Homo sapiens: one gene and its partners. The protein of the gene in region 1 interacts with the protein of each later gene in a pairwise test. Each region holds a gene or a part of one and is shown on either strand. Other genes may lie near its edges.

Region 1 (7,405 bases):
GGTTAAAGATATATAAGGACTGGGAATTGGATACTGAATTTAGCAATGAGAAGGACCTTGACAAAAGTTGTTTTCATTCAGTGGTAAGAGACAAAGCCAGACTGGATTCCATTTAGGAAAAATGAGGAGAGCATTTTGTCTATAATCATAGACAAAATGATTAAGGTATGCATACAGCTTTACATTTTTAATTCATTGTTTCTTTTTCTATTTGGACAGTCAGTATGGAAATCTTTAGTAGAGAAGATACTGGCAACATTACAGAACATAATGTCCTTTGGGACATGAACTTCACTCAGCCTTTCATTATGACGATGCTAATCTACTTTGGTTATTTACATCACCCACTTTGCATTATAAAACAGTAATTTAGTGGTTACAATATTCTTATTTTTATTGATGATAAAGAGAAAGCCTTGCAAGTGACAGCTTTTTGGTGTAATAACTTGCATAGGCTCTGTAATTGATGAGTCCCTTATGAGAAGGGTCTGTTTTCACAGCATTCATTATACACATCATCAAGTTTGCACAACTAACACCAGGATGATGTACAGATCAGCATGTACGTATTATTCTGCCCATGTCCCTGCCTATGAAGAAGGAAACCAAATTTGTGGTTGCAGCTCTTTTACCCAATAACTCTCTGACCTTCCAGAAATTACTTAAAGTGTCTGAGCCTCAGGATTTTGGTATGATATATTAGGATAACAGTACCAGCTCTGCCTGTTTTACAGAGTAGATGACTGGCTAAAGTACTTTAACAGACATGCGAAACTCATATTTGCTATTGCTATCCTCACATCCCCCCTGTAGGATTTAGATGGTATTTAGTTTCCTCTGTGTCTTTCCCTTCCTCCCGTCTTCTTGCATTTATAGATATTTTTGCATGGTAACAACCTGAACAGTCTACACCAACTAATTCATCCTGAGATCCTGCCCTCTGAGTTTGGAGGAATGCTGCCTCCTTATGACATGGGGACATGGGCAAGAACACTGCTAGACCATGAATATGACGATGACAGCGAGTACAATGTAGACTCCTACAGCATGCCTGTGAAGGAAGTAGAGAAGGAACTCTCCCCAAAGTCCATGAAGAGGTATGCTGGAGGTAGACTGGGGAGTGGGCTGGGCCAGGGCAGGGAGAGGCATCCTGAGTCAAACTCAAAGCTTTCTGTTTTTCTGTATACATTTTTCTGGTGGGATTTTAAAACTCTTTATGCCCTATGATTGTATGTCTAAGAGTTTTGAGTCAAAGATAAAGTCATTTTCTTATAGTGAGAACATTTAAAATTTATTCTCTTAGCGGTTTTCAAATATACAATACATTATTATCATATATTTGAAAACTGTAGTAACCCTGATGTATGATAGATCTCCCAAACTTATTCTTCCTGTCTAATTGAAACTTTGTACTTTTTGATGAATATCTCCCTATCCACCCCCCCAAACCATCCTGCCTCATCCCAGTGCTTGGTAACCACCATTCTACTATCTATTTCTATGAGTTCGACTTTTTTTAGATTCCACATATAAGTGAAATCATGCAGTATTTTTCCATCACATTGTATTCCATAACTATATGCAATTATCTGTCAATTAAGGAAAAGATAAAGTAATTTGAGGTAACCTCAACTTAGTGTTGTTCCAAATTCACAGACAGTCTAGCAGGGCCCTTGGAAGTCACCAAATCTGGTGGTTTTCAAATTGTATCCTGAGAAACCAAAGGTTTTGAGGGGGTGCCTTAGGCCAAGTAGGTGGAGTAGAGAGAGTGCCCATTTCCACTGTTGTGGGAGCAACTCTCCTATAAGCAATTTATTGGATTTCTGTGTAAGATTTCTTTTGAAGAAAGCAACCACACACACCAGTTCAAACACTGTGTTCAAAGTTTCTGGTCCTTTTTCAATATCTCTGCCAAGTCTTTGTCTAAAGGTCTAAACATTACTGGTACAAAACATTGTATTTCACTTCAGTTTTAATCTTTATAGAGTTCATTGTTGAGTCAGAGTCCAAATACCTGCTTTGACTCTCACAGCACTTTTATGCCTTTTATCTTTCAATCAATAGTCTGGGGAGTTGTCAGACATTGCACAAATGCATACCTGGCTCTGAGTTTGCATTCTGTCACAAACAAGTAGATGTGTAATTCTCAGACTTCCCAGGCAACCACAGCTCAGGGTCCATTTGGATAACAGTAACAAATATTACTTCTCCAGTTCATTTCACATTCACAGAAGTATGGGCACCGTAGCCCCTGCAAGTCTCCCCTCACCTAGCTCAGGGAGGATACAAGGACAATGAACGGGTCATGCCAATGTCTGGCATCCTTCTCTGATGAAAGCCTTAAGGCCCTTTGCCCATAGCTCTGACTCATGGAGTAATGTGCCTGTTCTTTAAGGATGGTCTTCTTTTTTTTTTTTTTTTTTTTTTTTTTTTTTTGAGATGAGTCTAGCTCTGTCTCCCAGGCTAGAGTGCAATGGCGCGATCATGATTCACTGCAACCTCCACCTCCCTAGTTCAAGGGATTCTCCTGCCTCAGCCTCTGGAGTAGCTGGGATTACAGGCTCCCAACACTGCACCCAGCTAATTTTTGTACTTTTAGTGGGACAGGGTTTCACCATCTTGTCCAGGCTAGTGTCAAACTCCTGACCTCATGATCCACCTGCCTCGGCCTCCAAAATACTGGGATTACAGGAGTGAGCCATTGCGCCTGGCCAGGATGGTCTCTTTTATGCTGCTGCCTCTGTTGTGATTGTTGTTAGTATGTGTGTGCATTGATTTCCTCTCTCCAGGCTGCTGCACAACTCCTTGGAGAGAACGGAAAGGCCAGAAATTTTCCCTGCTCTAATTTTCCACTAGTTAGCAAGCTTATATTTAAACCAACTTTAGGCTTCTTAACTCCCTTCTTTTAGAACAGAACTTCTCAAGATCTCTGCTCTCCTAAGGGGTTCATGGATGGGCTCTCAAAGGATTCTGTTAAGTGCTAAAAGTTGTATGCAAAATTTTGTGTGCGTAAGTATGAATGTACTATATGTATATGTCATGCATATATTTTCTGGGGAGAAGTCATATATTTCATCAAATTATTTGAAAGTTTTTAAAAACAAAAGTGGTTAAAAGCAACTCCCCCTAAAATAGTTTTCTTCTAATAAAATAATCCTAATGATAACAGTTGTTATAATCTATCATTTACTAGGTACTTTTCATGAAGTAGGTGTCTTTTTTTTACATTAATTTATAAATCCTCACAACAACCGTGTTAAACAGATACTGCATCCTCAACGTTAGGTAGTCTATATATAGTGGAGCAGAGGGCTCCACTGCATGAGATGTGGAGTCTTTCACACCACTGACATAAAGCCTGCCTACCCTTCGTGGCACAGAGGCCCTTTCTCAGAACTGAACTACATAAGGATTTGGAGGCAGCTGTCATCGGTGTCCACTAGTGTTCTTCTTTGTCAGCTAATGAGGCCCTTTTTCTTCAGCCATTCTGCCTGAGGCATGATTCCTCATGTGGCCCATCACGTGAGCACATTTTTCTCTGTATCTTCTACACATCACCTGCACTCTGCTCAGCTGCACCCACCCCCTAAAAATTATTTAACTGTTCTTGTTGATTCCAGCCTTACCTGCTCCCCTACTCCCAATTTATTATCCACATGGCAATCCAAAAATCTTTTTAAAATATGAATCAGACCATGTCACATCTTGGCTTTATTTTTATTTTTATTTTTGTTTTTTTGAGGCAGGTTCTCTTTGTGTTGCCCAGGCTGGAGCGCAGTGGCGTGATCATGGCTCACTGCAGCCTCCAACTCCCTGGACTCAAGCAATGCTACCACCTCAGCTCCACAAGTAACTGGGACTACAAGTGCCTGTCACCATGACTAGTTAATTTTTTATTTTTATTTTTTTGTAGAGACCAGGTCTCACTATGTTGCCCAGACTGGTCTCAAACTCCTGGCCTCAAGTGATCCACCTGCCTCAGCCTCTCAAAGCACTGGGATTACAGGTGTGAGCCACCAGGCAGGCCTTAGCTTTATATTTTTAATGACTGCTATTTATACAATGAATACAATCACCTCCTTATCATGGCTTACAAGATGCTACCTGATCTGACCCTGCCTCCCTCTCTCCTCCAGGTGTATCCTGTCTGCTTCCTCTTCCCCTGCTTTTCAGACACATTAGTCTTCTCTTTTTGCCCTTGTCACCGCCACCTGGAATGTTCTTTTCCTTCATCTTCAAATGGGTGGTCCCAATCAAAGGTCAGCTCCTCGAAAGAGTCTTTTGATCTTTGTCACCCACCTGGTCTTAGTCAGTTCTGTTTCCTCTTCATTCTGGTCACTCCCTGTCCATCACCCTTCTTTATTTTATTCTCTTCATAACACTTTTAGCCTTTGAAATTGCTGATTTTGTTTAATTTTATATCTGCACCCCACCCCAAAGTAAGCTTCAAGGAGACCATATTGTCTATGTTTACCTTATTCTCTGAATCCCCAGTGCCTGGAGAAGGTCCTGGAAAAACAGAGGGTGCTCAGGAAATACCAGTTGAATGCATGGAGGAGTGCTCTGCTGCCCATCAGTGGCCCCCTTTAAGTGCAGTATTCATAACTGAATAGGGAACATCTAACCTGGTATTGGCACTTGCATTTAAGTTGCAGAGTTCTGGCTTTGCAGGATAGACCTCACTGGCTTCTTTGGGTTGCTGTTGTTGTCACTGTTGCTATTGTTCAAGCAGCCAAAACTGACTGGTATGGGGGTTCCTAAAACTGGAAAGTCTCTTTACTTACCAATCCATATCCTCCTATTGTTTAGGTTTGTCCTCCAATCACATTATTTTAATTGATTAAGGCCCATCTTGTTAGATATAGCCTAGTCTATCCACCTTTTGTATCCTGATTCTTTTCTCCAATTAAATAGACCATTTTCTCCCCTACACACTTTGCTTGTAGCCCATTAGTGGCCCCAGTCCTGAGTTTCCTGCTGGTGTCATGGGCTGATTAGAGTTTTAGGCATTGTTTGGTGTACGTTTGGTATCATATGAAACATTTATGATTCTATGGAAAACTGAAAAATGAGATTAAGAAAGGTGTTGCACTTGATTCTCATGTTCTCTATGTCAGGGAATGGCAGTTCGCCATCCAGGACAAGAGAAGATTGCTCCTATGTTCCACACTGATTCCCCTTGGCCCTTTTCTTTTTGTAGTTTTATGATATCTTTAGATTAAGAGGGAGAAAATAATTCCATCACTAAAGAGTTGTGGATAATTCTTCTTTTGGGTAAATGTAGCTAGACATGCAAAAAGATGACTTGTCTTTTTGTATTAATTTCTGGAGGAGAAGCATAGTCATGTGTAAATATGCAAAGTTCACTAGACTAAGTATTTTAGAACTGGAGAGTGTCTTTTACCTTATGCCGCCAATGCCTAAGATAGTGCCTGGCACATAACAGTAGTGAGTAAAGTAACCATACCTATTTCATGATACGCACTTCTGATTATTGAATATTGAATATATTATTATTGAATAAGGTTAAGCATTTATTATTGCTTTGTGCCAAACCCTGTTCCAATGCTCTATGTATGTTGATTCATTTGCTTCTTGAAGCAAGTAATAAAGTAGTAGTATCCCCATTTTATTGATAGAGAGACTGAGAAACAGGAAAGGTAAGTGACTTCCACATGTTGCATAACTACAAAGTAGCAATGCTAATATCTGTACATAGGCAATAGTATTCCATGAGCCATTTCATTAACCATATGCCAGAATTTGTGCCGGGGTTTATGGATGCATTGTTGCATCTGATACTCATTATAACTTTATGATGTGGGTATTATTTTTCCCATCTTAAACAATAAAGAACAAAATCTTAGGAAGTTTAGTCTTCCCATGATCACACAGCTAGTAAACTGCTGTTATTAGCAACTGGAGTTATGATCTACTTCTGTCCGAAATCTAGTTTCTTAAACACTATGTATTGTAGATGCATGAGAAATGAGTATTGGATATCTAAATCTAAATTACTAGTTTTCAAGAAAGAAAGAAAAGTTATTCATTGTGAAAACAATAGAAGCTGCATAGAAACCCCTGAGATGGGCTGGGCACAGTGGCCCATGCCTGTAATCCCAGCACTTTGGGAGGCCAAAGCGGGTGGATCACTTGAGGTCAGGAGTTTGAGACCAGCCTGGTCAACATGGTGAAACCTCATTTCTACTAAACATACAAAAATTAGCCAGGCATGGTGGTGCACGCTTGTAATCCTGGCTACTTGGGGGAGGTGGGAGCATCAGTTGAACCCGGGAGGCGGAGGTTGCGGTGAGCCGAGATGGTGCCACTGCACTCCAGCCTGGGTGACACAGTGAGTCTTTGCCTCAAACAAAACAAAACCGAAAAAAAAAAACCCAGAAACCTCTGAGATGTATGAGTTAATGATAGCTCCCTCTGCTGTGGCTAGAATAAATCAATTCATTAATACTTCTGATCCTGCACAAATAATCCTGTTCTGTCATAAAAGAGACTAAAAAAAAATTGGACTAAAATAACTATACACTTGGGACAACTAAATACCAAAAAGAAAAAGAATTAATCACAAATTGTTTCTGACTCACTTTTGTTCTGTGATTGAGGCATTGTTTCACATATGGAATCAGCATTCATCATCCAACAATCCTCATATCTGTAGTGCATACTAAAAGCAAACTAGAAACTTAATCCCAGCTTGAATAATACACTGTAATTTAAAATATTTTGTTAAAAATGTCATATTCTCTAATATTGTTTTCAAAAACAGTCAGGAAACACACAGACTTAGAATGTGTATATGTGAGCATGTCTGTATAATGTGTAATAGTATATTAGGGCAAATGCTTAACTATTGTGCCTTGTGCAGTCTGAAGAGCTTTGGTATGTACTTATGGAATATTATTAGGATATACCTCAATATTTATATATTTAATTTTATGAAAAATTTAAAATTTATTTTCTATAAAGAAAACAGAATTGCTTTCTTTATTATCCTCATTACTCTTCATTTTGAGTTCTTAATACTGAAGTTCTTTCAATTTGGAAATTATTTACTGGCTAGAAGTCAAGACATGAAGAACTTACTCTTTTCCAAGCCCTATGATGCATGTTGTATTCACAATAAGGAAAGAAACTGATAAAGTCCCTGCTTATGGAACTTGCAGTCTAGTGCATATCAGTTGTCAGGTTAATACTTTAGCACAGGACATTAAATGAGCCTCTTTCTCTTTGAACATGAATTCATCTGAGAGCCAATTTGCTTGGTTGGGTCTTACCTAAAAACAAAGTTAGAAGTCTAATTACTTAGTCTTTTGTGCAATTGTCTCCTTTGTTAAAAAGTATTTTATTCATGTACTTTAAATAAAGATGATTATGTATTATTGCATTT
Region 2 (8,260 bases), on another chromosome or scaffold:
GCTAAAAACAACCATATAGAACTGCTACACTGAGAGAATGAAAGAATAAGATTGTATAACCCAAATAGGGAGATAGGAAATGGTTTACTGGTTCCTTCCCCCTCCAGTCGTGGGGGATTTTTTTAAAAAAAAACTAGTGACCAAAAATAAGACTAAAATATCTGGGAAGTTCAGAGACAACCTGTCACTGAAAAACCTCCTGTAATCTTTCATTCAATCAGAGGGTATTCTTTTTAAGGCCACATATAGCCTGATCATAGCCCCTGCCTCATTCTCCATCGAAAACATTCTTGGATGTGTTCTAAATAAGCAAAGGAAAGTATATTTATTGATAAGACACCAGACACCCAGCTGCCAGGCAAAACTAATAAGGGACACCCTGGGGCTGTATAAACATAGCAAAAGAACTGATATTAACAATTCTGTACTTGGCAGACAGTCCAGACTTCTGGGTCTGCTTCTAAGGCCATATGCTTAAGTCTTTATTTAGTTATAAAGATCTGAGTGGGTGATAGCTGGGGAGGTGGTAGTGGAATACACTATAGGTTGTACATAGAATGGTGTGAGCTTGTCTCTTAGATTTCCCTCACTCTTTCAGAACCTCACATCTTGCTGTTCCGGCGCCCACTACCCAAGAAACCAAAGAAATGAAGCTGGCAAGCTACTTTTCAGCCTCAAGCTTTACACAGCTGTCCTTACTTCCTAACATCTTTCTGATAACATTATTATGTTGCCTTCTTGTTTCTCACTTTGATATTTAAAAGATGTTCAATACACTGTTTGAATGTGCTGGTAACTGCTTTGCTTCTTGAGTAGAGCCACCACCACCATAGCCCAGCCAGATGAGTGCTCTGTGGACCCACAGCCTAAGCTGAGTGTGACCCCAGAAGCCACGATGTGCTCTGTATCCAGAACACACTTGGCAGATGGAGGAAGCATCTGAGTTTGAGACCATGGCTGTTACAGGGATCATGTAAACTTGCTGTTTTTGTTTTTTCCTGCCGGGTGTTGTATGTGTGGTGACTTGCGGATTTATGTTTCAGTGTACTGGAAACTTTCCATTTTATTCAAGAAATCTGTTCATGTTAAAAGCCTTGATTAAAGAGGAAGTTTTTATAATCTAGTGCTGTAATTGTACGGGTTTTTTCCCCCTCACTCAGGGTGAGCATCATCAATATCATGGTTCTAATTATATGCCCTTCAGTTTGATAATGAAGCTCAGCTCTTTGCTGATAATGAGGTTTAACATTGAGATAACTGGTTTTTAATCTACTTTAAGCAGACTTGCTGTCAAACATCTACTGAAATATATTTCACTCTAACTACTAGCCTGAGGTAGAGGTTATATAGGGACAACTTCATCTCATCCAAACAAATGAACTGCTTCCTACAGTCGGGGTGCTGCCTTTAACATAGTCCCAATATTTGAATGGCACACATGGATAAAAGGATGCTGTCAGTCAGGGGCTGCTTGTGTGTCCCAATTCCTAATAGGAATAATAGGCATATCTATGACCTATTCACTGTGCCCCTTGGTTGGGGAAGGTTTTCAGCTGTTCTTAACTTGGCTTGGGCGTTGGAATCACCTGGGGAGCTTTACAAGTACTGATGCCTGCCTGAGTCATTCTTAAGGATTCTTAATTGGTCTGGAGTGTGGACTGGGGGTAAAGATTTCAGGCATCTTATGCAGGTAGGTAAAGAACTAAGCTTTGAGAAAACAGGTGCAAAATGTAGCTGTTTAAGAAAACATTCCAGGCCACACGTGGTGGCTCACACCTGTAATCCCAGCATTTTGGGAGGCTAAGGAGGGCAGATCACTTGAGGTCAGGAGTTCGAGACCAGCCTGGCCAACATGGTGAAACTCCCGTCTCTATTAAAAATACAAAAATTAGGCTGGGTGCAGTGGCTCATGCCTGTAATCCCAGCACTTTGGGAGGCTGAGGTGGGTGGATCACCTGAGGTCAGAAGTTTGAAACCAGCCTGGCCAACATGGTGAAACCCCATCTCTACTAAAACAAAATTAGCCGGGCGTGGTGGCACACGCCTGTAATCCCAGCTACTCCGGAGGCTGAGGCAGGAGAATCACTTGAACCTGGGAGGCAGAGGTTGCAGTGAGCTGAGATCACGCTATTGCACTTCAGCTTGGGCAACAAGAGTGAAACTCTGTCTCAAAAAAATAAAAATAAATTAGCCGGGCGTGGTGTGTGCCTGTAATCCCTGCTACTCAGGAGGCTGAGGTGAGAGGATCGCTTGAACCCGAGAGGCAGAGGTGAAAGTGAGCCAAGATCACACCACTGCACTCAGCCTGGGCGACAGAAGCTGTGTCTCAATTTAAAAAAAAAACATTCCACAGAATAATAACTTCCCCTCTAGTCTAACAAAACAGTAGTACTAAGTGGCCGGGCGTCGTGGCTCACGCCTGTAATCACAGCACTTTGGGAGGCCGAGGCTGGCGGATCATGAGGTCAGGAGATCGAGACCATCCTGGCTAACATGGTGAAACCCTGTCTCTACTAAAAATACAAAAAAATTAGCTGGGCAAGGCGGTGGGCGCCTGTAGTCCCAGCTACTCGGGAGGCTAAGGCAGGAGAATGGCGTGAACTCGGGAGGCGGAGCTTGCAGTGAGCCGAGATTGCGCCACTGCACTCCAGCCTAGGCGACAGAGCCAGACTCCGCCTCAAAAAAAAAAGAAAAAAAAATACTAGTACTAAGTAAGGATATTAATCTCCCCCATTTTTCCTGTCTTCCATCCACTTATTCCTAAAATAGCAGGCATCAACATCGGGAAAATTCATTAGAAATGCAAATTATTGGGCAACAACCTAGACCTACTGAATCCTAAACTCAGGATTGGGCACAGCAATGTTTTAACAAGCTCTCCAGCTGATTCTGATGTACACTTAAGCTTGAGAATCCACTAGGAAAATACTGGAACAGTCTTGGTATTCTGTTTTGGGAGGGGATCAAATATCACCTGTATTGCTAATAAAGATATTGGAACATGTGGTTTACTAGGCAAGTGGAATTCTTGTTTTGCCCTTTTTTTTTTTTTCAAAGAGCTGACTTTTTATAATTGAAAGAAATGAGGGCCAAGTACGGGGGCTCACACCTGTAATCCCAATACTTTGGGAGGCCAAGGCAGGGAATCACTTGAGCCCAGGAGTTCAAGACCAGCCTGCGCAACATGACCAAACTCCGTCTCTACTAAAAATACAAAAATTAGCCAGGCATGGTGGGGCGCCCCTGTGGTCCCAGTTACTCTGGAGTCTGAGATGGGAGGATCACTTGAGCCCAGGAGGTCGAGGCTGCAGTGAACGGTGCTTGCGCCACTGCACTCGAGCCTGGGCAACAGAGAGACCCTGGTTCAAAAAAAAAAAAGGGAGGGGGGGCTTATTACTTAAAAGAATGGTCTAGACACCTGATCACCTGGGTCCACCATTCACTGTGTTTTGTGGTTGTGTGGCATCCCTTCACCTTTCTGAGCCTGTTCCTCATCTGTAAAATGAGCATGATGTGTATCTTACAGGGTATTTTTTTTCTTTTTGATGGAGCCTCGTTCTGTCGCCCAGGCTGGAGTGCAGTGACACAATCTCGGCTCACTGCAAGCTGCGCCTCCCGGGTTCACGCCATTCTCCTGCCTCAGCCTCCTGAGTAGCTGGGACTACAGGCTCCCGCCACCACGCCCGGCTAATTTTTTGTGTTTTTAGTAGAGACGGGGTTTCTCCATGTTGATCAGGCTGGTCTCCAGCTCCTGACCTCAGGTGATCCGCCCGCCTCGGCCTCCCAAAGTGCTGGGATTACAGGCGTGAGTCACCGCGCCCGGCCTTTTTTTCTTTTTTTCAATTGAGAGAACTCAAGCAATCCTCCCTCCTCAGACTCCCAAAGTGCTGCGCCCGACCAAGGGTTTTGAAGAGTAAAATTTGGCAAGGTGTGGTTTACCAGTCCTACAAAGAATGAATTCGGCCCGGCGCGGTGGCTCACGCCTGTAATCACAGCACTTTGGGAGGCCGAGGCGGGCGGATCACGAGGTCAGGAGATCGAGACCATGCTGGCTAACACAGTGAAACCCCGTCTCTACTAAAAAAAAAATGAAAATAAAAAAATTTTTAAAAAAAAGCCGGGCATGGTGGCGGGCGCCTGTAGTCCCAGCTACTCGGGAGGCTGAGGCAGGAGAATGGCGTGAACCCGGGAGGCGGAGCTTGCAGTGAGCCGAGATCGCGCCACTGCACTCCAGCCTGGGTGACAGAGGGAGACTCCGTCTCAAAAAAACAAAGAATGAATTCGGGCCCTTACCATTCAAAATGTAGTCCATAGAGCAGTGGGATCACCATCACATGGGAACTAGCTAAATGCAGATCTCAGGCCCCACCCAAACCTACTGAATCAATCTGCATATGAAAAGATCCCCAGATTATTGTTGGAAAAAAGTTTAAGATGTACTTTTAGAACAAAGGCAACTGAAATGGGGGTAAGCTCGGATGATGTGAGGATCCAGAGTAAACATGTAAGGCACTCCCTATTCGCTGCCTCATTTGCACCTACAAGACCAATTACTGGGAAAGGTCATTTGAACTAAGCACCATCTGGAGCAAGGTGGAGGAAGAGAGGGTTTTTGGACTCTTTCTTGTCAAAGAGATTTAAGTAATTCGTTTTGTCTACTATACTAGAGATAAATTAAGGTTCCACACATCAAAAGCTCACCTACTCCAGGGTCTTCATATCCGACAGACAGTGGTAATAATCTTTCTCGGTGTCCCTCCAACTTCCTTCTGCTATAAATAAGATGCTTTCTCACTCCAGTAAAAGCCCTTAGCCTAGTGTTAGAGTCACGGTGAATGAAAACAGCTTAAACCATGGCTAACTGACCCATTAAACAAAACAAAACAAAGCAACACATGCATAACAATTATTTGAATCCAGCACCAGAAACTCCCCGAGGGCCTTACAGCACCTTTAACTACGGCTCCTTTCCCGCCCTAAACTCCCGAGGTCCCGCCCCCGACCGTGGGCTAAGGTCCGGCCCCCGTATTTCCGGGCGAGAAGTGACCACGTGGTTGTCGCCTATAACAATCCGGCCCTGCTCCCATCCACTGGCTAAAGCCTGAGAGCGACAGTTGAATACACCAATGGGACCCTGGAAGAGTCTAAGCGACAGCCAAAATCACCATTCAATGTCAGCTAGGTGCAAGGCGGGACTTTAAGTACGGAAGCTGCCCCGGGACATGAGGAAAGGAACAAGGGAAAGAGCCGGTGAAGGGGCAGAACAGGCAGGTGAGAGTCTAAGAGGGCTCAGTAATCTGAAGCTTGGTGGGAAGAAGGGATTCTGGGCTAGAAAGGGTGCAGAAGCCTGAAGTAGAAAGAGACGGGATTTTGGTCCGGGGTGGAGAGCGAATGCATTGAAAAGGGCCAAGGCCCAGGATAAGGTAGACATTTAAAGGGGTACGGATGCCCAAGGTAGAGCAGACACTTGAGGAGACCAGCTCAGCAAACGGAAGACACTTAAAGTGGTAGGTTCTCAAGAGAGAAGAAGTTTTTAAGACTAGAGCTAAGCAAGACATTTAAAAGGACATGGGTTGGGATTTGGGAACACGTTTATTCCAGAGGCAGGAACAAAGGAGTCGCTTGTCAAGGATCTGGTTAGAGAAGACTAGGGTCTTCCTCGAAGGAAGCACGCGCACGCCTGCTCTCCCCCATTGTCTTTTCTGGCTTCTCCAGGTTCCCTCGACCCAGGACCCCCTGTTCCCAGGCTATGGCCCCCAGTGCCCTGTAGACCTGGCAGGCCCCCCGTGCTTGCGACCCCTATTTGGGGGTCTGGGTGGCTACTGGAGGGCCTTGCAGAGGGGCAGAGAAGGCAGGACCATGACATCTAGGGCCTCTGAACTTTCTCCGGGGCGCAGCGTGACGGCTGGCATCATCATTGTTGGAGATGAGATCCTTAAGGTGTGTCTGGGACAGAAAAGGGGGGAGGGCGCTGCGTTCTCCTGTCCTTAAGGGCCTGCTGCACATCCCTCCATGGAAGGAGGTGAAACAGGGTGGGAGCCTCTTTGCTGCAGTAGGATCCTGGAGTGAATCCAGCATATTGGAGGAAAATTAACCCTCATTCTTTCAATTACTCTACTGAAAAACTTGTAGCAAAGTCCCTACAATTTTTCAACCTGAGAGAGCTGATTGAAAAAAAGAAAAATAAAAAGGTCATTGCAATTTACCAAGCAGTATGGTAGAGGGCAGAGGAGCTACACAACAATGACAGGAAGCCCCTCGAGTAGAGGAGGTACAGGTGTGTGTATTGTATATTTAAGAGTTTTGGCCGGGTGCGGTGGCTCACGCATGTAATCCCAGCACTTTGGGAGGCCGAGGCGGGTGGATCACGAGTTCAGGAGTTCGAGACCAGCCTCAACATGGAGAAACCCCATCTCTACTAAAAATACAAAATTAGCCAGGCGTGGTGGTGCATGCCTGTAATCCCAGCTACTTGGCAGGCTGAGGCAGGAGAATTGCTTGAACGTGGGAGGCGGAGGTTGCAGTGAGCTGAGATCGTGCCATTGCACTCCAGCCTGGGCAACAAGAGCGAAACTCCGTCTCAAAAAAAAAAAAAAAAAAAAGAGTTTTACCCAGCCTTTTTGGAAATGACTCAAGGTACTCAGCGTAGTGGATAAGTGAGCTAGAAGGAAGGTACTAGAAGGGATGAATCCCCTCCGAATGATCAGGAAAGTCTTACTAGAGGACATAACAGATGACACGGGTTTTTTTGTTTTTGAGACAAGATTTTGCTCTGTCACCTAGGCTGGAGTGCAGTGGCACAGTCACAGCTCACTGAAGCCTCCATCTTCCAGGCTCAAGCAGTCCTCCTGCCTCAGCATCTGGAGTTGCTGTGACTACAGGTGTTAGCCGCCACACCTGGCTAATTTTTTTTTTTTTTTTTTTTTTTTTTTTTTTTTCAGAAACGGTCTCACTATGTTGCCCAGGCTGGTCTCAAACTCCTGGGCTCAAGCAATCCTCCCACACCTTGCTGGGATTATAGGCATGAACCACTGAGCTTGGCCAAATGTCAAGTTTTAATAATAATCTTTTTTAATATTCTTTGTAAATTTGTGTTTTTTTTGTTTTTTTTGTTTTTTTTTTTTAGATAGTCTCACTCTGTTGCCCAGGCTGGAGTGCATTGGTGGGATCTCAGCTGACTGCACCTCCACCTCTCGCGTTCAAGCAGTTCTCATGCCTCAGCCACCCGAGTAGTTGGGATTACAGGCATGAGCCACTGCACTCAGCCTTAATAGACCCTTTTTTTTTTTTTAGACAGAGTCTTGTTCTGTTGCCCAGGTTGGAGTGCAGTGGCGTGATCAATTTTGGCTCACTGCAACCTCCACCTCCCAGGTTCAAGCAATTCTCCTGTCTCAGCCTCCCAAGTGGCTGGGACTACAGGCATGTGCCACCACACCTGGCTAATTTTTGTATTTTTAGTAGGGACGGATGGGGTTTCGCCATGTTGGCCAGGCTGGTCTCGAACTCCTGACCTCAAGTGATCCACCCACCTCAGCCTCCCAAAATGTTGGGATTACAGGCGTGAGCCACCTCACCTGGCCCTGACCCCAATTTTTTTTTTTTTTTTTTTTTTTTTTGAGACAGAGTTTCACTTTTGTTGCCCAGGCTGGAGTGCAATGGCTCGATCTTGGCTCACCGTAACCTCCGCCTCCTGGGTTCAAGCGACTCTCCTGCCTCAGCTTCCCGAGTAGCTGGGATTACAAGCATGGGCCACCACGCCCGGTTAATTTTTGTATTTTTAGTAGAGACGGGGTTTCTCCATGTTGGTCAGGCTGGTCTCGAACTCCTGACCTCAGGTGATCCACCCGCTTCAGCCTCCCAAAGTGCTGGGAGGCATGAGCCACTGCGCCCGGCTGTGTGTGTGTGTGTGTGTGTGTGTGTGTGTGTGTGTGACGGAGTTTCGCTCCTGCTGCTCACGCTGGAGCGCAAATGGCGCAATCTCAGCTCACTGCAACCTCTGCCTCCTAGGTTCAGGCAATTATCTCACCTCAGTCTCCCGAGTAGCTGAGATTACAGGCACCCGCCACCACGCCTGGCTAATTTTTGTGGGGTTTTTGTTTGTTTGTTTTGAGACGGAGTCTCGCTCTGTCACCCAGGCTGGAGTGCAGTGGCGCGGTCTCGGCTCACTGCAAGCTCCGCCTCCCGGGTTCACGCCATTCTCCTGCCTCAGCCTCCCGAGTAGCTGGGACTACAGGCGCCCGCCACCACGACTGGCTAATTT
Region 3 (7,703 bases), on another chromosome or scaffold:
GGAGGAGCTGGCACCATTCCTTCTGAAACTATTCCAATCAATAGAAAAAGAGGGAATCCTCCCTAACTCATTTTATGAGGCCAGCATCATCCTGATACCAAAGCCGGGCAGAGACACAACCAAAAAAGAGAATTTTAGACCAATATCCTTGATGAACATTGATGCAAAAATCCTCAATAAAATACTGGCAAACAGAATCCAGCAGCACATCAAAAAGCTTATCCACCATGATCAAGTGGGCTTCATCCCTGGGATGCAAGGTTGGTTCAACATTCGCAAATCAATAAATGTAACCCAGCATATAAACAGAACCAAAGACAAAAACCAAATGATTATCTCAATAGATGCAGAAACAGCCTCTAACAAAATTCAACAACACTTCATGCTAAAAACTCTCAATAAATTAGGTATTCATGGGACGTATCTCAAAATAATAAGAGCTATCTATGACAAACCCACAGCCAATATCATACTGAATGGGCAAAAACTGGAAGCATTCCCTTTGAAAACTGGCACAAGACAGGGATGCCCTCTCTCACCGCTCCTATTCAACATAGTGTTGGAAGTTCTGGCCAGGGCAATTAGGCAGGAGAAGGAAATGAAGGGTATTCAATTAGGAAAAGAGGAAGTCAAATTGTCCCTGTTTGCAGATGACATGATTGTATATCTAGAAAACCCCATTGTCTCAGCCCAAAATCTCCTTAAGCTGATAAGCAACTTCAGCAAAGTCTCAGGATACAACATCAATGTACAAAAATCACAAGCATTCTTATACACCAATAACAGACAAACAGAGAGCCAAATCATGAGTGAACTCCCATTCACAATTGCTTCAAAGAGAATAAAATACCTAGGAATCCAACTTACAAGGGATGTGAAGGACCTCTTCAAGGAGAACTACAAACCACTGCTCAAGGAAATAAAAGAGGATACAAACAAATGGAAGAACATTCCATGCTCATGGGTAGGAAGAATCAATATCATGAAAATGGCCATACTGCCCAAGGTAATTTACAGATTCAATGCCATCCCCATCAAGCTACCAATGACTTTCTTCACAGAATTGGAAAAAACTACTTTAAAGTTCATATGGAACCAAAAAAGAGCCCGCATTGCCAAGTCAATCCTAAGCCAAAAGAACAACGCCAGAGGCATCATGCTACCTGACTTCAAACTATACTACAAGGCTACAGTAACCAAAGCAGCATGGTACTGGTACCAAAACAGAGATATAGATCAATGGAACAGAACAGAGCCCTCAGAAATAATGCCACATATGTACAACCATCTGATCTTTGACAAACCTGACAAAAACAAGCAATGGGGAAAGGATTCCCTATTTAATAAATGGTACTGGGAAAACTGGCTAGCCATATGTAGAAAGCTGAAACTGGATCCCTTCCTTACACCTTATACAAAAATTAATTCAAGATGGATTAAAGACTTACATGTTAGACCTAAAACCATAAAAACCCTAGAAGAAAACCTAGGCAATACCATTCTGGACATAGGCATGGGCAAAGACTTCATGTCTAAAACACCAAAAGCAATGGCAACAAAAGCCAAAATTGACAAATGGGATCTAATTAAACTAAAGAGCTTCTCCACAGCAAAAGAAACTACCATCAGAGTGAACACGCAACCTACAAAATGGGAGAAAATTTTCACAACCTACTCATCTGACAAAGGGCTAATATCCAGAATCTACAATGAACTCAAACAAATTTACAAGAAAAAAACAAACAACCCCATCAAAAAGTGGGCAAAGGATATGAACAGACACTTCTCAAAAGAAGACATTTATGCAGCCAAAAAACACATGAAAAAATGCTCACCATCACTGGCCATCAGAGAAATGCAAATCAAAACCACAATGAGTTACCATCTCACACCAGTTAGAATGGCAATCATTAAAAAGTCAGGAAACGAGGTGCTGGAGAGGATGTGGAGAAATAGGAACACTTTTACACTTTTGGTGGGACTGTAAACTAGTTCAACATTGTGGAAGTCAGTGTGGCGATTCCTCAGGGATCTAGAACTAGAAATACCATTTGACCCAGCCATCCCATTACTGGGTATATACCCAAAGGATTATAAATCATGCTGCTATAAAGACACATGCACACGTATGTTTATTGCGGCACTATTCACAATAGCAAAGACTTGGAACCAACCCAAATGTCCAACAACGATAGACTGGATTAAGAAAACATGGCACATATACACCATGGAATACTATCCAGCCATAAAAAATGATGAGTTCATGTCCTTTGTAGGGACATGGATGAAACTGGAAACCATCATTCTCAGCAAACTATCGCAAGGACAAAAAACCAAACACCGCATGTTCTCACTCATAGGTGGGAACTGAACAATGAGAACACATGGACACAGGAAGGGGAACATCACACTCCAGGGACTGTTGTGGGGTGGGGGGAGGGGGGAGGGATAGCATTAGGAGATATACCTAGTGTTAAATGAGGAGTTAATGGGTGCAGCACACCAACATGGCACATGTATACATATGTAACAAACCTGCACATTGTGCACATATACCCTGAAACTTAAAGTGTAATAATAATAAAATTTAAAAAAAAGAAAGTAATGCAAAAACTGCAAAAAAAAAAAAAGAAAAAGAAAAGAAAATGGGCATAACACCTACTTCCTAAAGTTGTTGTGAAGCTTAAATTGGAATAAATTAGCTAACATACGTAAACACTTAGATATTGCCTGGCATATGATAGGTGCTCAATAAATGTTAATCTTATACCTCAGGTGAATTTGTGACTGGCCTTTTGCTTTCTTGGGAGGAGAGACACAGGCATTATAAATTTCACCTGTCCATGTGGTTTGTACTCTTCCTTTCTTCTGTTTAGCAAAATGCCCTTTTAAAAAGTCCCAACCTTGCTTCAGTTGAACTGATGGGCAAATGTGATTTCCCACACCTGAGCTAGGGGATCTAGGCTCTCAGACTGCCCTGAGAGCTGTGCTGCAGAGGCCTGGCCAGAACCCTCAGAGCAGCTCCGGACTCCTTCCTCTGTCACTCCTCCACATTCAACTAGAATCCTATGTCTCCCGAGTTGACCCTGTTGCAAATCTGTGCCCCTTTTCATTTGCATGGGCCCTGCCGAAATTCAGAAGCTTAGTTCTTCCCATGACTATAGGGGCCTCGGGCAGGTCTCTTGCTCTGTCAAGGTCAAAACCCCTACTTTCCTAAATTCAACCATTGATTCTCCATCTTCATCTTACTTGATCAGCCACACTTGACATAGTTGATCACTTCTCCCTTTAAACATCTTCACATGGCTTCTGGGACCTTTTGTTTTCCTCCTACCTCCCTGGCCACTCCTTTTCAGACTCCTTTGCTGGTTTGCTCTCATTTTTCCCTAACCTTTACATGTTGATATGCCAGAGCACCTCAAACCCTTAGACCTCATCTCTGCTACTCGTGCTCCCATGGTGATCTCATCTAGTCTCTGGTTTCAAACACAGAGTGATCACTCCTGTACTTGCTGTTTCCCTTTTCCTGGAGTTCTCTCTGCCTCCTGCAGGTAGGAAGTGATTCGAGATAAGAGAGGGAGAGAACTCTTCTGGCCAGGATAGAGGGTGATTCTGAGAAGGCTTCAAGGAAGAAGTGAGCATTTGAGCACGGCTACTTGAGGAAGGCTAGGCCATGGACATTAGGGTGCAGGCAGGAGCAGAGCAAACATGCTTGTAAAAGGAACAGCAATTATTCTGTTTTATATTTATATCAGCCCATGGTGGCCCCCACAGCAGAGTGGCTTGATCTCTCACCTCCTTCAGGTCTTTGTTTAAAGATTAACTTCTCCATGAGGCCTTCTATGAACATAACCTTTAAAAACATAAATCCCCTTCCTACTGGGACTCCCCCAGTTCCCACCCTGAGACCCCCTATCTCTCTTCTCGATTTTATTTCTCTCCATAGGATGTGTATCACCACCTGACTTACTAGCTATTTACTATATATTAGTTTATTTCTTCCCCATTAGAATGTAAACTTCCTGAGGGCAGGGATTTTGTCTGTTGAGTTCAGTTCTGTATCCCCAGCACCTAAAACAGTGCCTGTCCATAACAGGCATGTTAAACATTGTTGGACAGATGAATGAGTGAATGAAAAATGGTAGTACCTTTCCTCCTCCAGTCCATCCTACACAAAGAGGCAAGATTAATTTCCCTAAATGCGTGAGCATTAGGAAGTGGGAGGGATTGGAGGAGGAAATTATAATAAGGAATCCATAAATTACTTAAGCCCATAAAACAAAGGTAGGAAACATTCAAGATAAGAGACCTCTTCTGGCCAGGATAGAGGTTGGTTCTGAGAAGGCTTCAAGGAATAGGCAGACATTTCAGCAAGGCTGCTGAGGAAGGATAGGCTGTGGAAATTAGGATGCAGGTAGGAGGATCACAGAGCAAACACTCCAAGGTGGGAAATGCAAGTGTGTGTAGAAGGAACAGCAAGTATTGTTGGGTTGGGCTGGCTTATGAAGTTGTGACGGGCTGAGGGAGAGACAGGACTGGAAAAGCACGTTGGGGTCAGGTTGCAGAGGTCCTTGACTGACAGAGAGGGGAGCTTGGTCTGTGGGGAATCTTCTGCTCTGTGTGGTCAGAGGCTGGTCTGACTCTCCGGCCTTGCCCCAGTCTTCCTATCCTTCATCCAGCCCCGGCTGGCTCGGTAAAAACGGCGCGAATCTCGCTCTCCCTGGGTAACTAGGGTCCCCACTGCCTGGCTAGTGGTGCTTTTCGCGTCTTCACTGGCACCATTAATGAATGAAGTCTGGCTCCCACCCGCGGGGAAGGGAGGAGCCTCAACCTCGGGTCCTTTGCTCTCCTGCAGCACTCCTGCCCGGGTCCCGCCTCGGGGTCGCCAGGCCCTGAACCCCAACGCCGGCATTAGTCGCGCCTGCGCACGGCCCTGTGGAGCCGCGGAGGCAAGGGACGGAGAACGGGGCGGAGGCGGAGTCAGGGCGCCCGCGCGTGGGCCCCGCCCCCTTATGTCGGGTATAAAGCCCCTCCCGCTCACAGTTTCCCTAGTCCTCGAAGGCTCGGAAGCCCGTCACCATGTCGTGCGAGTCGTCTATGGTTCTCGGGTACTGGGATATTCGTGGGGTGAGTGCCGTCTCAACGGTAGAGCCGCTCGGTCAAAGAGACTGACGCGGAGAGGGCGGGTCTCTGGGTCCGCGATCTCCAGCAGGAGCAGCTCTACGCGGGAGCCTTTTCGAGCTGCCGAGCCACGGATGTCGACCCCTGCCCAGCCTCTGGGATCGCGGGCCCTGTGGGGAGGGGCGGAGGAGACCACGCCGGAGCCGGGCCTAGGGGCCGCTTAACCACCGCCCCGGCAGGACGCAGGGACTCGGCAGCCCCGGGCCGGGGAACGTTAGCGGGCGGGGGTTGGGAATGGGTGGGAGCTGCGCAGTCGCTGAACCGCTGTCTTCCCCAGCTGGCGCACGCCATCCGCCTGCTCCTGGAGTTCACGGATACCTCTTATGAGGAGAAACGGTACACGTGCGGGGAAGGTAATGCCGCTCCGCGTGCCCGTGCAGCCAAGCTGGCCCTCCACCTGCCCTGGTCTTCTTACGCCCAGAGGGTGGTGGCGTCGCGCCAAGGCCGGGTGGGACGTTTGCCCCAATCTGGGTGAATAGAGACACATCCTTTATCTGGAACTGGGGGTTCTCTTTTTAACATAGCCCAAACCCGTCTTAATGCTTAACCAAATAGGGCTCAGAGGCTCAATGGTTATGCTTTTGGGGCCTGGGAATTTGAGGTATTGGGACCAAGTCATTTCTTTAGATCTTTTGCTCTTGTCAGGTGGGGTATTAAGGAGGTTGGGTCCCACTTAATTCCGTCTCTTACAGCTCCTGACTATGATCGAAGCCAATGGCTGGATGTGAAATTCAAGCTAGACCTGGACTTTCCTAATGTAAGTGGCTTTAGTAGAGGTGGCGGGCAGAAGGGAAAGCCTTCAAGTATATCCATCCTTGCCTCTCTCCTGCCTGGTACAGAAGGATGCAAAATAGGGGATCTTAACCCGGATAGAATAAATAGAATTCAGGGGTCCTTGAACTGGATGGATATGTATTTTCATTCCCATTAACCACTAGCAAAAGTTATTTCCTTTTATTGTGAAGAGAGACAATAAGTGACATTGGTTATTAGCCATGTCTGTCACTTTGTCACTAGTAGAAATCAGGTATTTTCTTTTTTGTGTGTTTCTTGTTCTTTTGTTTTGAGACAGTGTCTCACTCTGTCGCTCAGGCTGGAGTGCAGTGGCGCAATCACAGCTCACTGCAGCCTCAACCTCCCAGGCTCAAGCAGTCCTCCCACCTCAGCCTCCCAAGGAGCTGGGACTACAGGCACACACCACTATGCCCAGCTAATTTTTGTATTTTTGTAAGAGACGGGGTTTTGCCATGTTACCCAGGCTGATCCTGAACTTCTGGGCTCAAACAGTCCTCCCACCTCGGCCTTCCAAAGTGTTGGGATTACAGGCATGAGCCACTGTGCCCAGCCTGAAATCAGGTAGTTTCATATTCTATAACATGCGTTGCAGATATTTTAAGTGATATTTATATACATGTAAGTAAATATATACATATAATGTTATTTACTTTGAGATTATGTTAGTCATTACATCTGCTTGCTATTTAATGCACTAATAGGCACATGTTACTCTTATTTGAATTTTTAAAAATATTTTTTGATTGTGTAAATTATCTATTTTGCTTCATGCATTTAACAACTTTATTCTGAGAAAAGGTCCATGGCATGCACATACACTCACACATACACACACCAATTTAAGAACCCCTGTCTAGAATCTTGTGGACCCAGTTGCTACCTTCTACTTATTTTCTTTTTTCTCCTAACACAGCATCTTCTCACTCTTGTTCACTGCCCTGCAAGTGTTCTTTTCCCCTGGAGAGAGAGGTAGGGAATCAAGAGAGAGGCAGGTTGTTCATTTGTCCTGTCCTTTTCCTTTCAGCTGCCCTACCTCCTGGATGGGAAGAACAAGATCACCCAGAGCAATGCCATCTTGCGCTACATCGCTCGCAAGCACAACATGTGTGAGTGGGGTAGGGCTGGTGAGGGACCCCAGGCTGGTAGTTTGTCTGAGAGTGGATGATGCCAAGGGTGATTTGTTGTCATTTGGCCTACAGGTGGTGAGACTGAAGAAGAAAAGATTCGAGTGGACATCATAGAGAACCAAGTAATGGATTTCCGCACACAACTGATAAGGCTCTGTTACAGCTCTGACCACGTGAGTTTCCTTAGCACACATCTGCTGAATGGAGTATCAGAAAAAGGGGTATTTAGGAACCCAAGGGTTATCTCTGTTCCATTCTGCTGCTGCTACCTTCCCACCAATCCAGATTGTTAGAATAAGAAACAGAACTTATATTTTTTGGTTTGTTTTGTCATGTAATTCTGGTGCTGGTGCCTCTTCTTTCTAAACTCCTCTTTCCCCACCCTGCCATCCTCAAGTGAAGGCAATGAGAACCCACCTAGAGAAGGGGCTACTAAGTGTCCATCACTGGCCTGTGCCCTGATTAACTACAAAGATGATCACCACTATTCTCATTCTGTTTTTTCCTCTCAGGAAAAACTGAAGCCTCAGTACTTGGAAGAGCTACCTGGACAACTGAAACAATTCTCCATGTTTCTGGGGAAATTCTCATGGTTTGCCG
Region 4 (7,741 bases), on another chromosome or scaffold:
TACACTCCATATGGGCTCAGGCAGGTCAGCCTGTGGAATGAATAGAGGCCAACATGCAGGCCAGCCCGGAATGCGGCAGGAGTGACAGTGGCTTTCCGTTTCTGGGAATTCTGCCAGTACCTACAGTGGTGCCTTTTGACTTGGCTTACCTTTTTTCTCGACATGCAGGCAGCGTCTATCCCAGACTACCGGGGCCCTAATGGAGTGTGGACACTGCTTCAGAAAGGGAGAAGCGTTAGGTAAGCGGGCCAGGCATGGCCTCCCACATAGGCTGGGCAGCGGCAGCACGGGCCTGAGCTCCAGCTCTCCTCACCTTGCCTTCCTTTCTGCCTGGCAGTGCTGCCGACCTGAGCGAGGCCGAGCCAACCCTCACCCACATGAGCATCACCCGTCTGCATGAGCAGAAGCTGGTAAGAGCCCTGGGTGGCTGGTACACTTGCCAGGGACCAGGCAGAGCACCTTGGTGCCCAGTGGGCAACTAACTGCACCCGCCCTCTGTCTGCCAGTTGACTCCCATGATGAGCACCCACCAAGCGGGTTAGGCCGCGGGTTTGATCCTCCTGTGCTTGACTCTCCAGGACAGAAGGGGAGCTCCCCCTCTGAACCATCCCATCCGCAGCCAGCCTCAGCCTCAGAGCTGCTGGTGGCCTTTCCCCTTTGTGATTCCCTTGCATTTTTCTGTGGACCTCAGAAGCCATCCTAGTCACAGGGGAGGCTTATAGGACATCTCTGGGGACCTTCTGCTGAACACCCTCAACCAATGGGGTGTAGTGGTTGATCTGCCTAGGTCCCCAGGGACCTGAAATGTCATGACCCAAGAGAGCATGGATCTGGGGCAGAGTGGCCCTTGCCAAACCCCGAGCCACTTCCCAACCTTGCCGGGACGGTGCAACCTCTTGCCCTCCCAGCCACTCCAGGTGCATCAGGGCTGGAGGAAGGACAGCCCCTCCCCACCACAGGCCCTCTTGACTCCTGGTGGTTGGACCTGTTGTGTGTTTTACTTTCTAAGGCTCTCTGGGGGGACGGAGCTGCCCCTGGTTTTGGGAGCCATCGGCGGGGCTCAGAACAGCCTCGCTGTGGCCGGGTACTGACCTCCCCACCACCACTGGCAGCCATCCCTCCCCTTGCCACCCGTTCTGCCTTCCAGGTGCAGCATGTGGTGTCTCAGAACTGTGACGGGCTCCACCTGAGGAGTGGGCTGCCGCGCACGGCCATCTCCGAGCTCCACGGGAACATGTACATTGAAGTGAGCAGTCCTGCAGGGACCCAGGGTCTCCATGGGCAGGCGGGTCCCACTCACTGTGCCCTCTTGCCTCTAGGTCTGTACCTCCTGCGTTCCCAACAGGGAGTACGTGCGGGTGTTCGATGTGACGGAGCGCACTGCCCTCCACAGACACCAGACAGGCCGGACCTGCCACAAGTGTGGGACCCAGCTGCGGGACACCATTGTGCACTTTGGGGAGAGGGGGACGTTGGGGCAGCCTTTGAACTGGGAAGCGGCGACCGAGGCTGCCAGCAGAGCAGACACCATCCTGTGTCTAGGGTCCAGCCTGAAGGTACGTGCCGATGACACAATGAGTGAACCGAGCCCCTGCCCGCCCGAGGGTGTCCAGCTCTGCGGCCCAGCACTGTACAGACTTGTCCCTTGTGTGTGTGCGGTGTCTGTCTGTCTGCTTCCACAGGTTCTAAAGAAGTACCCACGCCTCTGGTGCATGACCAAGCCCCCTAGCCGGCGGCCGAAGCTTTACATCGTGAACCTGCAGGTAACTCGGGTGCTGAGAGCCACGTCCTTAGATCTGGGTCTTAGAACGCACAGCCAGAGACACCCCACACCCATGCACCAGGGCGGTCTGATAGGGCCCCCGTGGGTGCTCAGGGAGCACCGACTGAGCCCGTAGGGGCCAAGGCTGACAGGCCACCGGGAAGGGTTGGGCTGCTGTTACTCTCACTCGGCTTTCCCTGTCCTCAGTGGACCCCGAAGGATGACTGGGCTGCCCTGAAGCTACATGGGAAGTGTGATGACGTCATGCGGCTCCTCATGGCCGAGCTGGGCTTGGAGATCCCCGCCTATAGCAGGTGAGTGAGCCGCTGCAGCAGCCTGCTTCCCCGCACCTCTGTGTGCTGGGCCTTGTCTGTCTTCTCTCGTGAGCTGAGTGTGGAGGAAGCTCTGAGGTGTTTGCAGTGGTGCCTGAGGCATGACTGAAGCGTGGTGGTCTCCAGAGGGCCTGACCTCGGTGGTTGGCGGAGACCCTGCGTGTGCCACTCCTGCCCTGGCTGATGTGGCACACACAATCCCCGCGGGGAGAGGGATTCTGCCCGCGTGCTCCTGCTCCAGGCCTCCCCGTGGAGCTCTCCGAGATGCCTGGTGGGAAGCATCTGGAGGGGACGAGCACTCGGCAGCTCTGGTCAGACAGAATCTGTGTGCTTGGTTTTGGGAGTTGGCGTACTTTGGGAAAGCTTAAACAAACTGTGCCTTAATACAGAATTTGTGATAATTTAGACTTGGTGTATGTATTGAGTAAAAAGTTTACACTCTCTTTCTCTGTGAATTTTCAGGGTCTTATAGGGGAAATCAATAACTTCTTTTAATCAAAGGGTTCAAGAAATTAAGGATCCCTTCACCTTCTGGGCCTGGCACTTCTTGTATGTTATGTGTGTGGTGTTCTGTGATGTGGGCTATCGTGTACTGTATTTTTTTTTTACATTAACTTAGCTCATTTTCCTTATCAGTGCGTATCTGTATCTTAAGTTATGATCTGTGGTTCTGCATCTCCGTCAGACACATGCTTTCTTCACGGGGTCGTCTGTAGGCCACGCCTCCCTAGTCAGCTGGGAAGGGGGAGAGGGTCTGGTCCACCTGCCCCAGCGGTACAAGTGGAAGGTGGGGCCCAGAGTTGCTAGTGACTCATCCCTGGAGACGGAGGCAGCCCTGGGGCCACTGCTGCCCCACCCTGTGTGTGCACGCCGCTCAGTGGTGGACAAGGACACGGAGTTTTGAGGAGACCGAGCTAGTGTGGGTGCCGACCTTTGAGTCACCACCTAAGAGGTGACCTCTCCCACATCCGTTCTGCAGCTTGGTAACAATGAAGCTGCCGCCAACCAGAGCCCCGCCGCAGTTGACACGGGAGGGAAGGGGATGGGAAGGCAGGGACCGCAGACAGCTTTCCCGAGCTGGGGCAGGTGTGACTGCGAGAGGCTCCCAGGCCCGCCTGATGCCGCTTTCCCTTTTTGGCAGGTGGCAGGATCCCATTTTCTCACTGGCGACTCCCCTGCGTGCTGGTGAAGAAGGCAGCCACAGTCGGAAGTCGCTGTGCAGAAGCAGAGAGGAGGCCCCGCCTGGGGACCGGGGTGCACCGCTTAGCTCGGCCCCCATCCTAGGGGGCTGGTTTGGCAGGGGCTGCACAAAACGCACAAAAAGGAAGAAAGTGACGTAATCACGTGCTCGATGAAGAACAGTTGGCACTTTGCAGATGGCCAGTGTCACGGTGAAGGCTGGGTTGCCCCCACGGGTCTAGGGAGAACGAACTCTTTGGGGATGACATTTTCACCGTGACATTTTTAGCCATTTGTCCTTGAGGAAGCCCCTTGCACTGCTGCGGTTGTACCCTGATACGGCCTGGCCATCGAGGACACCTGCCCATCCGGCCTCTGTGTCAAGAGGTGGCAGCCGCACCTTTCTGTGAGAACGGAACTCGGGTTATTTCAGCCCCGGCCTGCAGAGTGGAAGCGCCCAGCGGCCTTTCCTCGCTCACCAGGCCAGTCTCAGGGCCTCACCGTATTTCTACTACTACTTAATGAAAAAGTGTGAACTTTATAGAATCCTCTCTGTACTGGATGTGCGGCAGAGGGGTGGCTCCGAGCCTCGGCTCTATGCAGACCTTTTTATTTCTATTAAACGTTTCTGCACTGGCTTCCGGTGTCCCCGAGTGGTCGGCGCGGGCTCCCCGGGCTCAGGTCTGCCGCCTGGCAGCTCGGTCGTGGCTTAAAACTCCCTTGGTTGGACAGGGGACAACTGTAGATTATTGTGCCAAAAAATAAGAAAAAAAACTCCCCTGGTTGGGACAGCGCCCCGTGGAGGTTCCCGGAGGTGGCGGCGGTGGGACGGTCCCCACGCCGCACTGCCCCGCCAGCCGAGCGCCAGGTGTGGGCGGTGCGGAGAGGCCAGGTGTGGGTCGGGGGGCGGGGCTCGGAAAGCGCGGCACACGCCATTGGCTGTGCGTTTGGAGGGGGCGGGACTCTGTCAGGGGCTCACGCCATTGGCCGTGCGCGGAGGTGCGGTGGGGCGCGGCCTTCGGGGGGTGGGGCTCGGGGCGGAGGGCGGGAGGCGGGGCGGGGGAGGCGGGGGCGGGGCTCGGGCCGAGCGGCGCACGCCATTGGCCGTGCGCAGCGGGTGAGGCCCGCGTGACGGCCGCTGAGCGTGCGCCTGGCGGGGCGGGCGGCGGCGCTCGGAGTCGCCGGGAGCTGCCAGGCTGTCCGCGCCGCCGCTGCGGGGCCATGATCCGGAACGGGCGCGGGGCTGCAGGCGGCGCAGAGCAGCCGGGCCCGGGGGGCAGGCGCGCCGTGAGGGTGTGGTGCGATGGCTGGTGAGCGCGGGGCCGGGGCGGGCCGCGGGGGCGCCGGGGCCGGCTTCCTTCCGGGGCGCCGCGCCAGCCGTTGCCCGGGGACCGGGCCCGCGTTCTGGGTGGCGTCCTCGTCCGGCATGGGCCGGGGCTGGCAGGCTGCGGGGCTCGCCTGCCGGGAGGGTCGGGCTGCAGAGGCTCCGCGCCCTGCCGTGGGCGACCCCGTCTACCTCTGGCGGAGGCCCCGCCCGGTCACGCCGACCTCTCCGGTGCAGCCACCGCGCTGAGATCTGGAGCCACGGCCTCCCTGCTTCTCCGTAACCACCAGCAACCAGCTTGCCCGGCTCCGGTCCAGGGGTTCCCCTGGCCTCCGGGCGAGCGTCCCTGTAGGTGGGCATCGGGTGCGACCTGCCTGTCCGGGACCCGCGGTGAAGCCCGCGGGCTCCCGGGTCCTCCTCCGCGGGGCTAGAATGCGATCGGTCTTCCCTGGCCAGTCAGAGGGCATTGTTTTAAGAAAAGTTTCGGGTTGTCAACAAGTGAAAGGAAGACGACCGTTACTGATAATTTGCTACCTCTGACCCTTTCACGTGCCTGCCGGATGGAATCCAGGAAGCAAGCGCCTCTATCTGATTAGCCCTTCCCAGGAGAGCAAGCAGGGCCTTGTCTTCTGTGTCCGAGTCACCTCTGGGAAAAGGAATGTGGCTTTGTGTCAGTGGACTTTGACCTTGCCCTGACCAGGCCCCAGCCCCATTCCAGACTGTGCTCCCCTGGCCCAGCCTCTGCCCCCTCCTCCCCTCCAGCCTGTCCAGTGGGTACATGGGCCCGCCAGATTTTACCCAGCATGTCTGCCGGGCTCCGCGCACTGTGGCAGGGGTGCTGGGAGGAAGCAGTGGTGTGCAGTGGAGCAACTCTGTGCACTGTGTGGGCTGCCAGGGTCACACCTCTCCCTGGAGAGGCAGGGACAGCTTTGTCCACTTGAGGGGATGGGCCGCTGCTGTAAAGAAGTGGCGAAGAAGCCAGGGCAGCGAGGCCCAGTTGGTGGCAGGGCTGTGTAGCTTTGGGCTTGAGAGTTCACGTGTTAGCAGACCTAGATTTGTGAATGAAAACTCTCGAGCCAGGTGGCAAGGCAGTGGCTGTTCACCCTTAGCGTTAAGCCTGCTGAGCTTGAGGCCGTAAGGGAGGAGAGACAGGATTTTCAGGGCCAGTGATTCCCAGGGTTTTATTTTGTGGTTGGATTTGTTTTGGGTTAGCCCCAGGGACTGTTTGCTTGTCTCAAGGTAGTCTAGGATCCAACCCTACCCCAAGAGTTAACATCGGCTTATTTTAAAGTGACTGCCCAGGGCAGTTGATATTTGGTGAGGGGATAGGACACGTGGCCCTGCAGCTTTCAGTGGGCTCCAGTCTGTCCTGCACCCACCAGTCCTCTAGACCCAGCCAGGCCTTGACATCTCTGCCCCTGCCACCCTTTCTAGATCTGGCACAGGGGTCCCACCGTCAGGCCCAGGAGCCAGTGGGGTGGAGAGCTGAGCACCTACATCCTCCGAATCCCAGTCCCAGGGCTCCCAGCAGCAGCTTCTCAGAGCGCTTCCTAAGGAGTCCTCAGAGGAGCAAAGCTCTGCCCCTAACCCACAGGGACACCTGGTCCCCACCCTTGGCACAGGGACCACCCACTCTCTCTGTCTCCACAGCTATGACATGGTGCATTACGGCCACTCCAACCAGCTGCGCCAGGCACGGGCCATGGGTGACTACCTCATCGTAGGCGTGCACACCGATGGTAAGCACAGATGGCCTCGCCCACCCGCGGCCCCCCAGCCCTCCTGTGGGTTGCGACTGTTGACTGAAAGCCTGCAGGCCTGGGGCCACCTTGCCAGGGCACAGCTGTAGGGGAGGGCACTGTAGGCTCACCCAGCCCAGCCCCAGCTGAGGATGGCCTAATGCCTTTCCCATCTTGCATTTCCTGTCCCAGCTAAAGAGAAGGGGCACCTGCTCCCCACCACTGCCAGCGAGGCTCCCAAGCCTTCAGGGGCTGAGCACCTGCTCGTCAGAAGGAATCTCTGCCTTTGCCTGAGACCCTCGCAGGGAAGAGAGCCACCCAGTTGGCCAGCACTAGTGGGCTAAGGGCCAGGGTAGAGAGACAGCCTGCCCCCACCGGCCCTCTTGTGTGGCTACAGCTGGGTGCTGGGAAGGGGCCTCCTACTGGAGGGGCCGGGTGGGCTGGGGTCCCCAGTCTCCCCGTTGTCCTTTTCCTAGAGGAGATCGCCAAGCACAAGGGGCCCCCGGTGTTCACTCAGGAGGAGAGATACAAGATGGTGCAGGCCATCAAATGGGTGGACGAGGTGGTGCCAGCGGCTCCCTACGTCACTACACTAGAGACCCTGGACAAATACAACTGTGACTTCTGTGTTCACGGCAGTGAGTGGCGGGGCTGGGACCTGGGGGCCTGGGGACATCAGGTGGCTCAGGATCAGATCTGCTGGTGGGACATCCGGGAACAGGGGGCCTCCGCCCTTTGAGGATCTGAGACATTTCCGGGCCCCCACCTAGAAATGGGCACGCGGACACTAGGGCAGGCCAGGGGCCGAGAGGGTCCTGGGCTCTGAAGGTTCTGGTGGCTTTGGGTTAAGGATCCTTGTCCTTGTGTGTCACTGCTTAGATGACATCACCCTGACTGTAGATGGCCGGGACACCTATGAGGAAGTAAAGCAGGCTGGGAGGTACAGGTGAGTCTCCACCGCGGGCCTGGCCATCCAGGGAGCTGGACACGGGGCTCCCTCCTGGCTCGTGCTTTGCTATTTACCGGGAGCCCGTGAGGGGAGCGTCCAGGCCCTGGGCCATGTTCCTCACGCCCAGGACTGGGAACTCGAGGGATGGAGGTGCCATTGTGGGGTGGCCTGGAGGCCCTTGCCATTTGGTGCTGCAGACCCATGGCCCCAGGGCTCCAAAGGCACAGCTTTGTGAGGTGGCAGCTGTTGAGCTCGGGGGACGTGGCTGGCACTGCTGGGGAGCTGGCACTATATCTGAATTACCAGACGTCAGGGACATGAGGCCAGTGGCTCCCGCATGAGATGCTGCAGCTGAGAATTCACTCAGCTGCAGATGCTCAGCGGGCAGGACGTGGGTGTGAGGGAGGCAGGAAGCAGAGCTGCTACCCCAGTGCCCATCCTCTCCCTGGCATTGCA

Evidence for each region.
Region 2: the proteins of CLVS2 (region 1) and FLAD1 interact in binary tests that used the Homo sapiens proteins (3 or more experiments, as listed by UniProt).
Region 3: the proteins of CLVS2 (region 1) and GSTM3 interact in binary tests that used the Homo sapiens proteins (3 or more experiments, as listed by UniProt).
Region 4: the proteins of CLVS2 (region 1) and PCYT2 interact in binary tests that used the Homo sapiens proteins (3 or more experiments, as listed by UniProt).

What each region holds. Positions count from the first base shown.
Region 1 is NC_000006.12:123,054,930-123,062,334, forward strand, and holds part of CLVS2 (clavesin-2), read left to right. Parts: intron 1-876; coding exon 877-1,097; intron 1,098-7,405. UniProt on the Homo sapiens protein: Required for normal morphology of late endosomes and/or lysosomes in neurons. Binds phosphatidylinositol 3,5-bisphosphate (PtdIns(3,5)P2).
Region 2 is NC_000001.11:154,978,127-154,986,386, forward strand, and holds the start of FLAD1 (FAD synthase), read left to right. Parts: upstream 1-5,217; 5' UTR 5,218-5,568; coding exon 5,569-5,940; intron 5,941-8,260. Other genes in the region: CKS1B (cyclin-dependent kinases regulatory subunit 1), read left to right, coding at 599-651. UniProt on the Homo sapiens protein: Catalyzes the adenylation of flavin mononucleotide (FMN) to form flavin adenine dinucleotide (FAD) coenzyme.
Region 3 is NC_000001.11:109,737,664-109,745,366, reverse strand, and holds the start of GSTM3 (glutathione S-transferase Mu 3), read left to right. Parts: upstream 1-4,328; 5' UTR 4,329-4,414; intron 4,415-4,855; 5' UTR 4,856-5,079; coding exon 5,080-5,127; intron 5,128-5,458; coding exon 5,459-5,534; intron 5,535-5,873; coding exon 5,874-5,938; intron 5,939-7,000; coding exon 7,001-7,082; intron 7,083-7,175; coding exon 7,176-7,276; intron 7,277-7,615; coding exon 7,616-7,703. UniProt on the Homo sapiens protein: Conjugation of reduced glutathione to a wide number of exogenous and endogenous hydrophobic electrophiles. May govern uptake and detoxification of both endogenous compounds and xenobiotics at the testis and brain blood barriers.
Region 4 is NC_000017.11:81,908,109-81,915,849, reverse strand, and holds the start of PCYT2 (ethanolamine-phosphate cytidylyltransferase), read left to right. Parts: upstream 1-4,450; 5' UTR 4,451-4,494; coding exon 4,495-4,583; intron 4,584-4,674; exon of another isoform or gene 4,675-4,949; intron 4,950-6,247; coding exon 6,248-6,336; intron 6,337-6,528; exon of another isoform or gene 6,529-6,812; coding exon 6,813-6,974; intron 6,975-7,215; coding exon 7,216-7,282; intron 7,283-7,741. Other genes in the region: SIRT7 (NAD-dependent protein deacetylase sirtuin-7), read left to right, coding at 169-239, 338-410, 1,148-1,246, 1,320-1,556, 1,683-1,763, 1,970-2,076, 3,236-3,434. UniProt on the Homo sapiens protein: Ethanolamine-phosphate cytidylyltransferase that catalyzes the second step in the synthesis of phosphatidylethanolamine (PE) from ethanolamine via the CDP-ethanolamine pathway.